Regions from separate parts of the Homo sapiens genome. Here all the other regions are linked to region 3. The links come from fine-mapping of genetic effects on gene expression. A gene starts in region 3. Each other region holds a variant in brackets. All regions are shown on one strand. Distances are from middle to middle. Region 1 has its middle 30 kb from the start of CD44-DT. Region 2 overlaps SLC1A2 (solute carrier family 1 member 2). Region 3 holds the start of CD44 (CD44 molecule (IN blood group)). Region 4 overlaps CD44 (CD44 molecule (IN blood group)).

Region 1 (2,750 bases), 32 kb before region 3:
GACTCATATCCTGTGGCCATGAAAGTTTGGGTCACAACAGGTAAAGGACCATATTCAACCAGGGTGCTGGCAGAAGGTATGGAGAGCATAGAATGGGTAGTAGAAGAAGGAAAGTATGGTTATAACCTTAATCCCAATGACTAGGCACAGAAACAGGGTCTGTAGAAGCCATATTTTATGTTAATTATATCTTTGCCTATGTTTCCTCCCACTACCTTCTAAGAAGAGCACAGGTGGTGATTAAAGTTTTAGATTGCAGGTGACAATGTGACTGAACTCACCCTGACATGATACAGTGTTTGAGGGACTTTATGGAGGCCAAAAGGCAAAAGAGATGGGCTAGGATGAAGAGTTACTATCTGCTCTTCCCAATCTACTCTCTGCCCTTCTCGGTCTTCCTCTGGGCCCTGGGAGACTGGTCTCTGCAGACCACATCAACGAGATGTTTTCACTTCTGGTTTCTGAGAGGAACTGGCAGGATATCAGAGGGTAGAAGGAGATATATAGGGTTATTTATTCCTCAGGTTCAGCTGCAGATTGTCAGTGATTGAGCTGCTCTGCCAAAAGTTGATTTTCTGTGTCTTAGTTTGGGTTCTTTTGAAAGCAGTGCAACTTGAGTGTTGGAGGTTGACTCAGGGAGCAGAAAGAAGAAAGAAAAGCCAATGGAGTGTTTATAAATGATCTGGTTATTGTTGTGGGCAATTGGGGTGCAGTGACTTTGGGGGCTCCCTGAGGAATTACGAGCATGTGCCCCAGAATGATTTCCACAGAGGCTGATGGGCTCCGGGCATTTATCCACTCACTTCCACCACCTACCTATTGAGTTTGCGCCTGGAGACATATATTCCACGAATTTCTCCATTGTAACTGTGCTGGCTAAGTGGCCTTCTGAACCTTTGGAAAAAGCCCCAAGGAGCACAATTAAGAAAGACCTTGAACAATCTATCTTTGCTCTTGAGGTGGGACTCAGGTAAAGTGTGTGCAACTGTCCACCCTGTGGTGCTAAAGTCAGGCGGACTGATGGTATATGTTGTGGTACATCACCAGCACCTTCTTGCCCTCTGTCAGATGCAGGACTCCTGGGTTTGCTTCTTCTCTTTGCTGTTTCAGACATAATCATAACAGATCCTGTCCTTACTAGTCCCAGGGTATTTCATTATCTCTTTTTTGCTTCCTCTAAGGAGGTCTATACTTTTGTAATAGCTCCTCTTAACTCTCTCTTCAATCATCCTTTGGATCTGTTTTGTGCTAAAACTCT[G/A]ATAGATAAGACTAGTGAAATTTCAAAAGTGAACATATAATGAGCTAAAATCCAGATAGCTAGTCTAGACAAGGTCTACTGTTTCTACCCAGTATCCACATACTAGTTTCTTATTAAAATGTTCAAAGCTACACAATCAATTTTTTTGGACTCCCCAAGATGCAGAGACTTTGAGAAAGCACTTTTCATGCCAAGGAAACACTGGCTCCTTTGGGGCTAACATGTAAATTTATTATTTTTTAAATGTCTGTAATATGGTATGGCTGTGTCCCCATCCAAATCTCATCTTAAATTGTAATCCTCATAATTCCCACGTGTCAAGGGAAGCATCTAGTAGGAGGTGATTGGACCGTGGGGGTGGTTTCCCCCATGCTGCTTTTGTGATAGTGAGTGAGTTCTCACAAGATCTGATGGTTTTGTAAGTGTTTGACAGTTTCTCCTTCAAACACTCCCCCTCTCTCCTGTTGCCATGGAGGATGTGTCTGCTTCCCCTTTGACCATGATTGTAAGTTTCCTGAGGCCTCCTCAGCCATATGTAACTGTGAGTCAATTAAAACACCTTTCCTTTATAAATTACCCAGTCTCAGGTATTTCTTTATAGCAGTGTGAAAATAGAATTTTTTAAGGAAATGAAAATTATATAATGTTTACTTTCCTCAAACTAGCAAAATGGACATCTGTCATTCTGTTTCACTGCCCAGCATCTAAACCCTCTTGTTATATTTGGAGAATTTCCCACCTATGTCTCTTGGTCAGAGAGTGATATGGTTTGGCTGTGTCTTTACCCAAATCTCATCTTGAATTTAGTTTCCATAATCCCCACATGTCATGGGAGGGACCCAGTGGGAGGTAATTGAATCATGTGGCTGGTTACCCCCATGGCTCTGTTCTCATGATAGTGAGTGAGTTCTCATGAGGTCTGATGGTTTCATAAGAGGCTTTTCCCCCTTTTATTTGGCACTTCTTGCTGCTGCCATGTGAAGAAGGACGTGTTTGCTTCCCCTTCTGCCATGATTGTAAGTTTCCTGAGGCTCCCCAGCCATGTTGAACTGTGAGTCAATTAAAACTTTTTCCTTTATAAATTACCCAGTCTTGGATATGCCTTTAATAACAGTGTAAGAACAGACTGGGAAAAGTAAATTGGTACTGGGTAGTGGGGTGCTGCTGTGAAGGTACTTGAAAACATGGAAGTGGCTTTGGAACTGGGTAACAGGCAGAGGTTGGAACAGTTCAGAGGTCCCCAAAGAAGAAAGGAAAATATGGGAAAGTTTGGAACTTGTAGAGACTTAGAGGGATCATAAGACAGGAAGATGTGAGAAAGTTTGGAACTTCCTAGATACTTGTTGAATGACTTTGACCAAAATGCTGATAGTGATATGGACAATAAAGTGCAGGCTGAGTTGCTCTTAGATGGAGATGAGGAACTTATTGGGCACTGGAGTAAAGGCCACTCTTGCTATGCAGAGACTGGCAGCCTTTTGCTCCTGCCCTA
Region 2 (2,500 bases), 160 kb after region 3:
GCGGCTTACAGGTGTTTCCAGTACTGCCTGGGGGCTATCTGGATTTCTAATTTCCAATCCCCATGTGCTCCCTGACCTCTGACCCCTGATCTAGTATTGCCATTCTTGAGGTCTCAGTTCTTACTACTTACATGTTCTATAAATCAGTGTTGCTATGTCCTTGGCTACAGGACTTTGCTTCCCCACCTGACTTGTTCTCTGACTCTGAAGTATGAGCCATCTTCTCTTTCCTCCTCTTCTCCACACCTAACCTGCTCAATTTGGCAGTCCTAATTTCCAGTCCCTCCCTATTATATCCAGTTTCCTATGGTGTCCAGTTATGCCTAAAGTCTTAACCCATACTCAGTAAATTTTAGCATTATAATTTGATTCTCTTATAACAAAATTCCTTCTCTCTGAACCTTTGACTTTACTCTTTCCCTAGTCATCTAACCCACTAACCTCTTTACACCAAGCACATATCAACCCAGATTGTCTAACTACCCTTTGCTGGATCCTTTCTATCTTCAGCAAAAAGAATCCATCACTTGCACTTGGGGTTACTAATACTTCACATTTAGTATCTCCTCTTTTTGCTCTCAGCTAGAAAGCTTGACAAATGACTTCACAAGTAAGTTATTGGTCTGGAAAGACAAAGGCTTAGGGAAGATTAGATCCAGGACAGAGGGAACTAGTTCCGCAGTAATGTACAAAATCAATTTCAGGCCATTCCCAAGTCCTTCTCTCAAGCCCATGGAGAGGAGTCTGCTACGTGGGAGGTCAAAGAGAATCAATCTGAATATTCTGGCTGAGAATAGCTCATATTACTTGGTTAATTTCATTTGAAATTAAGAGAAAATGCCCGAGGTATCAAGGTCCCAAAGAACTGGAATAAAAAAAGCTCCATTCAGTGTCAGCAGAAACTGGCCATATCTATGAGAGATAGGTTTTTAAAGGAACAGTTGGAGTTGATTTAAGCAGTTGGGAGAGGGTGGAGACCAGAATTGTTTCTGGAGGTTTTTTAGGAGAGAAATGGTTCCTTAAAGAAGTG[G/T]GAGGCAAGAGCTGGGGTTGTATCTTCACTTATTGCAAGTGCTTAATCCTCGGGACTTTCCAAAGCCAAAAAACAGAAAGACAGCAAAACAAACAAATAAAAAAGCCACTATCTCCACCCTCAGAAGACCGTGGAAAGAACCTTATTTCAGCCATGATTTGTAAATGGGAAGTTTCTCAACAGTCTAACTTCCCTTGGCTTTCCAGAGCCTTGATCTGCACTTGGATGGAAACCGTATTCAGCTTGTAATTTTTCTTTGTAAACATTGCCTAATTGAAATTGCTCACTGGAACGGGGGTGTTGCATCTGAACAAAACCCTCTTGGACTTGGCCGCTGGGGTTACAGAGTAGTGAGTTGTGTTGAAACTCCCCAGTAGAGCCAAAGGTCCTGTGACTTCCCAGAATCCACCAAGACTCTGGAAACAACCAGGAAAGTCTTTGAATGATTCACTCCAAAGCCCTGGCCCCATTGTTCATGGCCTCAAGCTCCTCCTGAGTATGGAGAAGACTGAGGAACACTTTGACAAAAGGGGGTTGGGTGTTTTAAGTTATGACCCACCAGAAAAGACCATGGGGGAGTTAGGAAGGACCTGAAAGGAACATAGATAGCTGGACAGTGAGGGAGAAGAGCTGCTCGGTGGTGGGTGCTGGGGATATTTGCAAAATCTCCCCAGAGGAACTCTCCTTCCTACTCCTCGCTCCTTCCACCTCTCACCTCCCACTGGTTGTTAAACAATGTTTATTGATCTTCCATTGCCCAGCAACCTAGTCAGCTCATCTCTTCCCTCACTCTCACTCATCCAACCTGCTTCCTGCCAAGCCAAACAAAAAAGATCTGCTTCTGCTTCTCAGTGACTGTGCAATTCTGCTCCCTCTCTCTCCTCTTTCTCTCTACCATTCTAGATGGCTAAGGAGTAGGCTTACCAAATTTGGAACAAACAAACAAACATGACACTCAATTACTTTTTGAATTTCAGGTAAAAAATGAATACTTTTTTTTTAGTATTATTATGTCCCATGCAATATTTGTGACTTACACTAAAAAACTATTTGCTTTTTATCTAAAATTCAAATTTATCCAGGCATTCTGTATTTTATCTGACAACCCAACTAAGGAGACAAGGCCATGTGATCTTTCAGATGACAACGTGAAAGGACTACTGAGCTCATTCATCTCTAAGTAGCTGTCATCCAAACCTTTAGAAATTGTGCTTGGATAAATAAACATACTTCATCCATCCAGATTCACCATTTCTCCCAGGTTTTGGCCAAATGCCCCTATTTCCTGTCTCGGGGACACCATTCTAGTGATGGATGGAGGTTACGGAAGGGAGTGGACCCACTGAGTGGGAGGGGAGCAAACTGGGCAGACTAGAGCCGCTCACATGGTAATAAACCTCTGTCCCTCATGGAGGTATTTTCTTACTGAACTCCTCAGCTCTCCACCCACTTTGAATAATGATCACAGCT
Region 3 (2,750 bases):
TCTCTTTAAGATCTGCTGGGTAGGAAAGATGGGAGAAAATGAATTAATGTTTACACAGAAAGGAGGATAATGGGGGCAAAAATAATAGATGAACGTATGGGTGGATGAGAGAATGGATAAAATGATAGGTGGATATGTTGATCTTGGACAGATGGGAAATGAGTGGATATATCAATAAACAGATATGTGGGTGGATGGGTGGAGAAGAGGATGGTGGATGGTTGTGGTTTTATGAAGAGATGTGAAAAAGGAAGTGTGGAATGATGGATGAGAAGTTGTATGGGAAGATGAATAGAAGAATAGGTGGTTGAATAAATTAAAAGGTGTGTGGTTGGATGAATGAATGAGTGGGATGATAGATGGACCTAAGTGGTTAGTGGATGGACAGGAGGATGGATGGATGTGAGAGCCCCAGAAGGACATAAGGAAAGATGGGTGGATAGATGGATGGGCGGATGGAAGGATATTTAGGAGGATGAATGAGCATGTGTGTGGAGAGAGGTGCCCATTCACACTGGCTTGAACACATGGGTTAGCTGAGCCAAATGCCAGCCCTATGACAGGCCATCAGTAGCTTTCCCTGAGCTGTTCTGCCAAGAAGCTAAAATTCATTCAAGCCATGTGGACTTGTTATTGAGGGGAAAAAGAATGAGCTCTCCCTCTTTCCACTTGGAAGATTCACCAACTCCCCACCCCTCACTCCCCACTGTGGGCACGGAGGCACTGCGCCACCCAGGGCAAGACCTCGCCCTCTCTCCAGCTCCTCTCCCAGGATATCCAACATCCTGTGAAACCCAGAGATCTTGCTCCAGCCGGATTCAGAGAAATTTAGCGGGAAAGGAGAGGCCAAAGGCTGAACCCAATGGTGCAAGGTTTTACGGTTCGGTCATCCTCTGTCCTGACGCCGCGGGGCCAGCGGGAGAAGAAAGCCAGTGCGTCTCTGGGCGCAGGGGCCAGTGGGGCTCGGAGGCACAGGCACCCCGCGACACTCCAGGTTCCCCGACCCACGTCCCTGGCAGCCCCGATTATTTACAGCCTCAGCAGAGCACGGGGCGGGGGCAGAGGGGCCCGCCCGGGAGGGCTGCTACTTCTTAAAACCTCTGCGGGCTGCTTAGTCACAGCCCCCCTTGCTTGGGTGTGTCCTTCGCTCGCTCCCTCCCTCCGTCTTAGGTCACTGTTTTCAACCTCGAATAAAAACTGCAGCCAACTTCCGAGGCAGCCTCATTGCCCAGCGGACCCCAGCCTCTGCCAGGTTCGGTCCGCCATCCTCGTCCCGTCCTCCGCCGGCCCCTGCCCCGCGCCCAGGGATCCTCCAGCTCCTTTCGCCCGCGCCCTCCGTTCGCTCCGGACACCATGGACAAGTTTTGGTGGCACGCAGCCTGGGGACTCTGCCTCGTGCCGCTGAGCCTGGCGCAGATCGGTGAGTGCCCGCCGCAGCCTGGGCAGCAAGATGGGTGCGGGGTGCTCAGCGCGGACCCGGCGGCAGCCCCTCCGGCTGAGTCGGCCCTGGGGGACTGGAGTCAAGTGAGCTGTCTGCGAAGTGCATTGGGCTCCGGAAAGCAGGGCTGGGATTTGCGCTAAACCGTTGGAGAATGTGTCTGTGGAAGCACCATTTGGTTGAAAGAAAAAGAGAAAGAGAAGAAAGTTTGTTGGGCAGGCTGCCGGCGCGCAGTTTTGGGCGAGGTCGCTAGAGCTGCAGCACATGGCAGAAAGTAACCGTTCTCCCGGATGCGCACAGTCGTTGTCTGGACTAACAGGCTCCTGTGCCCAAGGGCTCGCCAAGCCCCACCGGGCTGTGTCTAGGCAGGGCAGAGCTGGGCGGGGCAGAGACTGGGGCTGGAACAGGGCGAGTGGCTGTTATCAAGGTGGTCACAGAAGGGATCACAATTCCAAGTGTGAGACTAGCTGGCAATGGGTTTTCCAGAAAGGGGTCCTGGGTTCTCCCAGCTCCCCACTGAGCCTTGTTCCAAAGCTTACAGTCCGCAGTGTCACTGCCACCTTAGCGCTGTGGAAGCTTGAACCAGCTCTGCGGTGAGGTCTTGGGTCTCCATGAGATTCCAGCCTGGGATAGGGAGCATGAATATGAGAGGCAACCACTGGACCAGCTGCTTGGTCCTCACCACCTCCTGCTTCTGCCAATCAGTGTGGGGAAATCTCAACAGTAAGGTGGCTTATATTCCCTGCCTGGCAGCCTCAGAGCAGAGAGAAGAGCCTTGATACCAGGGCAACATCAGGGACCCTGGAGCTAGGGCTCCAATATCTCATCCAAACAGGGTCAGTGCTTTGTGGTGGCTATGGAGGGGAGGGGCTGCGTGTAAGGTATATTCTAGCACGGCTCAACTCCAAGCATTCTCTTTCTTTGTCTATGTATGTACAGATAATTACATGGCCGATTTGCTTATCGCTGGCCAAAATTAATCTTTCTTTTAAGAAGTGCCAGCTGGGTCATTAAGACAGCTCAGCCTGCATGCAGTAAATTCTACTCAGCAAATATTTATTAACCCAGTTCCACGGGAGTACTGAGAAATTGAAACACACAGTCTCACCCAGGTAGTTTAGATTGAGTACCCAGTATAAAGTATCTTGAATTACTTTCTGCTTTCTCTATCTTCCTACTTTCTGCAGTAGGAAGAAAGTGACCCTAGGTGGAGGCTAGGCAGGATGAGTTCTCTGTGCATATGCATCTCCCTTTCTGTGTGAGTGAGAGGTCTTTGCTAGGTGGGGATTTGGGGATCTAGGATTTATACTAC
Region 4 (2,750 bases), 81 kb after region 3:
TGCTGCTGAGAATTCTCATGTTCCTTGACACAAAATAACATTACTAAGCCTTAGCCTTAATCAAATGAGGTGGGGGGGAAATCTTTTGTGTAATGCTTTATAAACATCTGCAGCTTGAATCCATAAATGGCTTCTCAGTGATTCAGAATGTGGAGAGCTGCCCTTTATGCAGCTCCACAAGGAACTCATGGTTACACATTTCAAACTTTGGTTGAGAGATGTTGTTTTTCCCCTTAGGACACTCACATGGGAGTCAAGAAGGTGGAGCAAACACAACCTCTGGTCCTATAAGGACACCCCAAATTCCAGGTGAGTTTCAAACTTTGAGGCAGAAAAACACACTGAAAGCAGCTTTCTCAGAATGTCCCAGCAAGGACGAAGAGACTCATTTGAAAGCACATTCTCCACAATGCCCAACATATGAATCCAATTGCTCCTCTTTACAAGTTAAAGGATGAATGAGAATACTACACCCTCTTGGTAGGAAAAGATGGAATAGTCTTTTCTTCCTGGGTTCTGCAAACTAGCTGAGCTCATACTCAGATCTGTCCCTGGCCTGTCCCAGAGAAGTGCCATGTTAGTTACTAAAGCTTCCTTCCTAAATGAATGATCACCAAGAGGACCCCATGTCATACCTAGGTCCTTTCTATCCCAATCCAATTTCCACTTATTTCTGGGGTCCAAGGTGAAGCATGTAATTTTCCTTTTACGATTACAGACAGGGAGGAGCTACAAGAGGCATTTATGTTAGATGGAGTGAAAACTTTCTTTTGGTTCCCCAACTAATTTTTTTTTGGTCGAGGGACCGCCTGCTGATGTGGACAGAATAAACTTTTCAGAAAGTATGCATGTGCAGTGAGGAGGCTGGGACACCTGGTTCTCCTGAGCATCAAGACAAGGCATTTGTTGCAAATTCTTTATTTGACTTGGAATTAAAATTGATTTGTCATAGAGAATTACTAAAGGGAAGGGTTCTCCTAAGGTTGTAAATTACCCTTTTAATTCTCTCCTCTTCAGAGGTCTCCAGACTGAGCCTCTCTTGGGGAAAGAGAAGAATGTGGCATGCACCGTTCTCCTTTGCCCCAGCTTGCCTAAGCACACCTGAAGACAGACCAGACAGAGACAGGGGTGGGCTGTCCCAAGGGAGAGCACAGGGGAAGCCTTAGCTGTCATCAGGCAGCAAGATTCTTCCCAGCTCCAGTGACAGTGCAGGTGGGATATCTCAGGGCTGGAAACCAGGGCCACAGTGGGCAGGAGTAGAAAGGAAGAACAGAAATCGGGCCCTCCTGTCAGTCTCCCCCACTTCTGACTCTACCTCCCTCTCCAAACTCATCTAAACCAGGAAAAGGTGAGGCAAAGGTAGTGCTGAGCAGGAAATCAGAGATAAACCAAAATTTCCAAGAAGAAAACAGATAATGAGACTTTCCATGCCTCTTCTTTCTCAAGCCCTGGTTCATTGCACACATATACAACCCACTTTGCAACTGAATTTAGTGGAGTTGTCAAGTCATATTTTAGTCCTAAAAGAGCCTGATTTCAAAATGTGTAGAATATTAATCCACAAGTGATATATAATTATTGAAAACATTTGAAAAAATACAACTAAATAAAATAATGGAAATATAAATCAATTATTATCAATCTCACCATCCAGAAATACCATGGTTACCATTTTAATATACGT[CT/C]TTTTTTTTTTTTTTTTTTTTGAGATGGAGTTTTGCTTTGTTGCCCAGGCTGGAGTGCAGTGGCGCGACCTCGGCCCACTGCAACCTCTGCTTCCTGAGTTCAAGCGATTCTCCTGCCTCAGCCTCCTGAGTAGCTGAGATTACAGCATGCCACCATGCCCAGCTAATTTTTGTAGTTTTAGAGATGGGGTTTCACCATGTTGGTCAGGCTGGTCTCAAACTCCTGACCTCGTGATTCACCCACTTCAGCCTCCTAAAGTGCTGGGATTACAGGCGTGAGCCACCGCACCCGGCCTTTCCTGTCATTTTAAAATGTAAAATATATACCAAAATGTGATTACACCTTACACGGTGTTTAGCAAACATTGCCTACTGGTTAACCATGGCTTCCATGTCATTGAATATTTCCTCCTCATATTGTAGTGCGTAATGCAATAGATGTACCCTAATTTATTTAACCAATCCTTTATTGCCTCCATTTTTGTTTTTTAATACAATGTAAGGTGGATAGGTGGATGCTCTTATACAGGAAAAAAATGTTCCTTTCAAAAGAAGCCTACATTTCCTTTTATATGTTTAATAATATTATACCAAAGGCATCTACAAGATTCAACAAGTCATCCTGTCCTTTTTTAGAAACATAGTTCTCCTGAAGGGACTTGAAAATCCTGACTGATGATAAAAGATTAAAGCAAGAAGGCTGTTGGACAAATACCTTCAGCAAATTGCTCTTCCAGAATTACCTGCCTATTGGCTGGACCTATTGGCCAGACCCCCCTGCAGCGCTGACTGTGGTGCTTGTTTCAACTAGGTCAATTATAAAGTGCATTTTTGTTTTTACAAAGTGTGTCTCTGAAGCTCACGCATGTCATTTAATTTACTCATACCAGAATGGCTGATCATCTTGGCATCCCTCTTGGCCTTGGCTTTGATTCTTGCAGTTTGCATTGCAGTCAACAGTCGAAGAAGGTAAGGGGCTGTCCTGGGGGCTTTCAACTTGGAAAGGGCATCATTTAAACCTGGGCTTTATATCCTTGCTGCTCAGAGCGTAGTCCCTGGAACCAG

The links.
Region 1: its variant is fine-mapped to the expression of CD44 in whole blood (INTERVAL, PIP 0.96).
Region 2: its variant is fine-mapped to the expression of CD44 in whole blood (TOPMed, PIP above 0.99).
Region 4: its variant is fine-mapped to the expression of CD44 in whole blood (INTERVAL, PIP above 0.99).

The regions. Positions count from the first base shown.
Region 1 is chr11:35,106,367-35,109,116 of GRCh38, forward strand. No RefSeq gene overlaps it. Among named protein-coding and RNA genes, the nearest start is that of CD44-DT, 30 kb to the right of the region's middle. The variant G/A (reference allele first, on the strand shown) is at 1,259.
Region 2 is chr11:35,302,791-35,305,290 of GRCh38, forward strand. All of the region lies in intron 5 of SLC1A2 (solute carrier family 1 member 2), which reads right to left. Among named protein-coding and RNA genes, the nearest start is that of SLC1A2-AS1, 22 kb to the left of the region's middle. The variant G/T (reference allele first, on the strand shown) is at 1,031.
Region 3 is chr11:35,137,951-35,140,700 of GRCh38, forward strand. CD44 (CD44 molecule (IN blood group)) reads left to right here and starts at 1,221. Exons shown (of 18, transcript NM_000610.4): 1 at 1,221-1,420. The coding sequence starts at 1,354. It overlaps CD44-DT (CD44 divergent transcript), which reads right to left and starts at 82. Exons shown (of 3, transcript NR_120528.1): 1 at 1-82. RefSeq lists enhancers at 386-950, 2,118-2,618 and a silencer at 861-930.
Region 4 is chr11:35,219,079-35,221,828 of GRCh38, forward strand. CD44 (CD44 molecule (IN blood group)) reads left to right here. Exons shown (of 18, transcript NM_000610.4): 16 at 238-309; 17 at 2,576-2,654. Among named protein-coding and RNA genes, the nearest start is that of CD44-AS1, 5.4 kb to the left of the region's middle. The variant CT/C (reference allele first, on the strand shown) is at 1,685.